2 separate regions of the Homo sapiens genome follow, and region 2 is linked to region 1. The links come from fine-mapping of genetic effects on gene expression. Tissue or cell type: whole blood. Region 1 holds a variant in brackets; the other region holds the start of a gene. All regions are shown on one strand. Distances are between the middles of the regions.

Region 1 (2,907 bases):
GAGGTCAGGAGTTCAAGGCTAGCCTGGCCAACATGGTGAAACTCTGTCACTACTAAAAATACAAAAATTAATGGGGCATGGTGCAGCATGCCTGTAATCCCAGCTACTTGGGAGGCTGAGGCAAGAGATTCGCTTGAACCAGGAAGACGAAGTTGCAGTGAGCTGAGATCACACCACTGCACTCCAGCCTGGGTGACAGAGCAAGACTCTTTAAAAATAAAGAGTTCCTTGGCCGGATGCGGTGGCTCACACCTGTAATACCAGCACTTTGGGAGGCCGAGGCGGGCAGATCACGAGGTCAGGAGATCAAGACCATCCTGGCTAACACGGTGAAACCCCGTCTCTCCTAAAAATACAAAAAATTAGCCGGGCGTGGTGGCGGGTGCCTGCCTGTAGTCCCAGCTACTCGAGAGTCTGAGGGAGGAGAATGGCTTGAACCCAGGAGCCGGAGGTTGCAGTGAACCAAGATCACACCACTGCACTCCAGCCTGGGTGACAGAGTGAGACTTTGTCTAAAAAAAATTAATTAATTAAAAAAAAATTCCAGGGATTAGGACATAGGACATAAATATATTGGCAGGGGTGGAGGGGATTATTCAGCCTACCACAACATCTTATGACAGTTAACATCTGTTCCTTAAACCACCTTACAGAAGGCCGAACTCTATCTCTAAAAACCCATCTTCCTATATTCCCTCCAACTGTACCCCAAACCATCCTCCACCCATTAACCGTATTCCCAATCCACCCTCCCAATAGCTCCCACCTGCATTCTTAAACTGTCTTATTGAAGCCCCATTCCTCCCAAAGACCTTCAAATGATCCTTCAATTGCCTGCAAACTGTCCTGTTGTAGAACCCAAACTCACCCCCAAGCCACCTTCAATCACCACTCATATCTATCCCTAAATACCCCCAACTTCACCATCCAGCTGCCCTCCCACTTCGCTCCACATGTCCCCTTCACAGCACCTTGAAGTTGTCTTGCAGTGAAACCCCAGATAAGGTTGCAGTGAGCCGAGATCGCACCACTGCACTCCAGCCTGGATGACAGAGCGAAACCCTGTCTCCAAAAAAAAAGAAAGAAAGAAAGAAAGGAACTCCAACTATATGGCAGGGGTGCAAGTATTGAGAAAGTTGAGAATGAGATATTGATAGAAACTAGGGCCGGGCATGTGGCTCATGCCTTTAATCCCAGCGCTATGGGAGGCCGAGGCGGGCGGATCACTTGAGGTCAGGAGTTTGAAACCAGCCTGGCCAACATGGGGAAACCCTGTCTCTACTAAAAATACAAAAAAAATTAGCTGGCCGCGGTGGCGGGCACCTGTAATCCCAGTTACTTGGGAGGCTGAGGCAGGAGAATCGCCTGAACCCAGGAGGCAGAGGCTGCAGTGAGCCGAGATAGTGCCACTGCACCTCAGCCTGGGTGACAGAGCGAGATTCCATCTCAAAAAAAAAAAAAAAAGAGAGAGAGAAAAAGAAAAAAGAAGTCCGGGTGCAGTGGCTCACGCCTGTAATCCCAGCACTTTGGGAGGCCGAGGCAGG[C/T]GGATCACGAGGTCAGGAGATCGAGACCATCCTGGCTAACATGGTGAAACCCCGTCTCTACTAAACATACAAAAAAATTAGCCGGGCATAGTAGCGGGTGCCTGTAGTCCCAGCTACTGGGGAGGCTGAGGCAGGAGAATGGCGTGAACCCGGGAGGCGGAGCTTGCAGTGAGCCGAGATCGTGCCACTGCACTCCAGCCTGGGCAAGAGCGAGACTCTGTCTCAAAAAAAAAAGAAAAAGAAAAGAGAGAGAGAAACCCAGAAAGATGCAGGGTAGGCATATCATGCAGGGTGTCATGGGATATCACTTGTCATGGAGACATTTGAGATGCGTGTGTGAAGCTGGTGTTTGTAGGATTGGGATGTGTGACAAGATAATTACTCTGTGGCTCTACTGCTATAAATATTTGTTGCCAGTCTGTTGTAAGTCTTTTAACTTTGTAGCATCTTTCATCAGACAGTATGTAGTTTTATTTATTGATTAATTGATACAGAGTCTCATTCTGTCGTCCAGGCTGGAGGGTAGTGGTACAAACACGGCTCACTGCAACTTCAAACTTTCCAGGCTCAAGCGATCCTCCTGCCTCAGCCTCCCAAGTAGTTGGGACCACAGGTGTGCACCACCATACCTGGCTAATTTTTCTTTTCTTTTCTTTTCTTTTTTTTTCTTTTTTTCTGAGACAGAGTCTCACTTTGTCCCCAGGCTGGAGTGCAGTGGTGCAATCTCGGCTCACTGCAACCTCCGCCTCCTGGGTTCAAGAGATTCTCCTGCCTCGGCCTCCCAAGTAGCTGGGACTACAGGCCAGGCGCGTGCCACCATGCCCAGCTAATTTTTGTATTTTTAGTAGAGACGGGGTTTCACCATGTTGGCCAGGATGGCCTCAATCCCTTGACTTTGTGATCCTCCCGCCTCAGCCTCCCAAAGTGCTGGGATTACAGGCGTGAGCCACCATGCCCGGCCTAATTTTTTAAAAGTTTTTTTGTACAGACGGGGTCTCCCTATGTTTCCCAGACTAGTCTCAAACTCCCGGGCTCAAGCAATTCTCCCACCTTGGCCTCCCAAAGTGTTGGGATTACAGGTGGGAACCACCCCGCCAGACCCTCCTCTTTCTTCTTTTGTAAAATTAGCCATTCTTACATGTTTGTTTTTGTTTTTTTTGAGACGGAGTCTAGCTCTGTCTCCCAAGCTGGAGTGCAGTGGCACGATCTTGGCTCACTGCAACCTCCACCTCCCGGGTTCAAGCGATTCTTGTGCCTCAGCCTCCCTAGTAGCTGGGATTACAGGCGCACGCCACCATGCCTGGCTAATTTTTTTGTATTTTTAGTAGAGACAGGGTTTTGCCACGTTGGCCAGGCTGGTCTT
Region 2 (2,907 bases), 210 kb after region 1:
ATAAAACAAAATAAAAAGTACATTTAATTGATTTTCTTTAAAATATTCAGCTGGGGTTTAAATTGAAATTACATAGAAATTATATATTAGTTTGGATAGACTTGACATCTTTATAAAATGAAATTGCCTCATCCAGGAACATGTATTGTGTCTTCATTTATTCAGATGATCTTTTTTTGTTTTTGAGACGGAGTCTTGCTCTGTCGCCCAGGCTGGAATGCAGTGGCACCATCTCAGCTCACTGCAACCTCTGCCTCTCAGGTTCAAGCAGTTCTCCTCCTCCTCAGCCTCCTGAGTAGCTGAGATTACAGGCGCGTGTCACCATGCCTGGCTAATTTTTGTATTTTCAGTAGAGATGGGGTTTCACCATGTTGGCCAGGCTGGTCTCAAACTCCTGACCTCAGGTGATACACCCACTTCGGCCTCCCAAAGTGCTGGGATTACGAGCATGAGCCACCGCGCCTGGCCTATTGTAATTTTTTTTTTTCAGACAACAGAAAAGTATAAAGGAGAAAGTAACAAACCATTAGTTACCTCCCCAGAGATAACCATTGATGACATTTCCTCCCCAACATTTTTCCCCCTATGGATACACATACATTTTTTCAAGATCTTGTTTCCTTTGATATGTCATTTTAGTGGCTTGAACTTATTTCTGGAACAATATATGGGTAAAGTCTATGCATATATGTATCTATGTATATATCTATCTATGGAAAACAAGTAGATATAGACAGTAAAATAAAGACAGAGACAAGACAGCGGTTGGAGAGATGAAAGGAGAGAAAGTCATAGACAAGGAGAGACATATGGGGAGAGGAAGACACAGAGAGAGCTGTGGGCACATAAGGGCAGAAAGATAAACACAGAGAGCCATGGAGAGATGAAAGTATTGGGCTGGGGCCAGGCATGGTGGCTCAACGCCTGTAATCCCAGCACTTTGGGAGGCCGAGGAGGGCCGATTGCTTGAGCTCAGAAGTTGGAGACCAACCTGGCAACATGACGAAACCCCATCTCTACAAAAATACAAAAATTAGCCAGGCGTGGTGGTGGGCACCTGTAGTCCCAGCTACTTGGCAGGCTGAGGCATGAGAATTGGTTGAACCCTGGAGGTGGAGATTGCAGTGAGCTGAGATCCGGCCACTGTCCTCCAGCCTGGAGGACACAGCGAGACACTGTCAGAAAAAAAAAAACACAAAGAGACAAGGAGAGGATGGAAAGGAGCATTTATGGAGCTCCTACTGAATGTCATTCTAAACCTCCAAGGTCACTTTGAGGGAGGCTGTCAGTAGTAACCCCTTTACGCCGCTGAGAGCCTGAGCCTTAGAATGGCCAACTGAGCTGTCCATGGTCACATCACCTAGATTGAACCCATCTCCCTGGCGCGGGCCGGGCCCACTGCGGGTGATCCATTAACTATTTATCTAATGAACAAACTAAAGTCCATCTCCTCCCCCAGGAAGAGAGATGAGGACCAGACCCCCATTCCACTCCACTGAGTCAATTTTTCTTGCCTGTTTTCCTGTCTACTAAGGTAACAGTAAGGTCGGTTGCCCCAGCAACTGCCCTCCGACTGCCATGGCAACCGCCAGCTCTCCACCTTGCCCTTTGGGCATCTCCATGGCGACGGGAGGTCTGGTGGGGCTGCCAGCTCCCCAGGCTGCGCCTGCGTCGGTCGGGTGGGTGGGGTGGGGGCGGGGGGGGGGGGGCCTGGTTCCGGGCGTGCGCAGCCGCAGAGCGCCGCAGCCTCGCCAGCTCGCCCCGGCACTGCGCACTTGCCAGCCAGTCCGCCCGTCCGGAGCCCGGCTCGCTGGGGCAGCATGGCGGGGTCGCCGCTGCTCTGGGGGCCGCGGGCCGGGGGCGTCGGCCTTTTGGTGCTGCTGCTGCTCGGCCTGTTTCGGCCGCCCCCCGCGCTCTGCGCGCGGCCGGTAAAGGTGCGACCCCAGTCCGGCGAGGGGTGGGGGTTGGGGGAGGATGCCACCGGCGAGGGTTGGGGTTGGGGCTGCGCCGCCTCACCCCCGCCCGAGCCGGCTCCCGGGACGTGCGGAGAGATCGACGAGGGTGGCCCGGGCTCCGGCCGCCGGTCCGCGCCCAGGCCACGCCGGCACACCTGAGACCTGACTTGGTCTCTGCCTGTGCGGGTGGCGTTGTCCGGGGCGCCGCCGGTAACCGTGCCCTGCCCACCTCTCCGTGCCCGGTGCCTGTGACGCTGTCCACGGCACTAAGGCGCTTTAAGAAAGGGCGCGCGCGCATCAGTGTGTGTGCGTGTGATGTGAGGAGAGCGGTGTGGAGGTGTCGTGTCCTTGAAAGTGTGTGTTCTTTGGTTTGAGCGCTTCCAAGTGTCCTAGAAAGGTGCCGTGGTGCGTCTGGGTGTGTAGTGTGTGTGATACCGGGATACTTCTGTGCGCGATTCTTTTGTGCGTCCGATTGTTTTCTCAGTGACACCGTGTGGATATTTGTGAATCCTTATTATGTGTGTTGGCTTGGCCTATGGGCGTGTCTCTCTCTCTCTCTCTCTGTCTCTCTCTCTCTGTGTGTGTGTGTGTGTGTGTGTGTGTGTGTGTGTGTGTGTGATTTCGTTTGTGTTTGAGAGGGAATGGTCTTCGCATCTCCGTGTGCACATTCCATAGTGGTTCTGTTGGACCAAGTGCCTGGGATTTCGTTTGCGTGTTCCTGAGACTGTTTCTCTCCGTTTCTTTGTGGAGCTGTGTCATCCTGAGGAGAGGAGCCATGATGTCTCTCTGCTGCATTGTGTCTTTAAGGATGGTGCATGTCCTTGCACCTGGGTGGCTTGGCGATTGTAACTGCAGGAGCAGCTGCGGATGTGAACGTGTGCAGGTCCTTGCATGTGGCTGTGGCAGTGTTGGGCTGTATATGTGACATCTCCAGGCCTGTCAGTCCTCATGA

The links. PIP is the estimated chance that this variant, and not a neighbour inherited with it, causes the effect. A credible set is the group of variants that fine-mapping cannot tell apart.
Region 2: PCSK1N starts here. The variant in region 1 is the best candidate, but not a certain one, in a credible set for the expression of PCSK1N in whole blood (TOPMed, PIP 0.85).

The regions. Positions count from the first base shown.
Region 1 is chrX:49,045,500-49,048,406 of GRCh38, reverse strand. No RefSeq gene overlaps it. Among named protein-coding and RNA genes, the nearest start is that of TFE3, 3.6 kb to the right of the region's middle. RefSeq lists a silencer at 877-1,070 and a cis regulatory region at 671-1,250. The variant C/T (reference allele first, on the strand shown) is at 1,545.
Region 2 is chrX:48,834,446-48,837,352 of GRCh38, reverse strand. It overlaps PCSK1N (proprotein convertase subtilisin/kexin type 1 inhibitor), which reads left to right and starts at 1,743. Exons shown (of 3, transcript NM_013271.5): 1 at 1,743-1,934. The coding sequence starts at 1,821.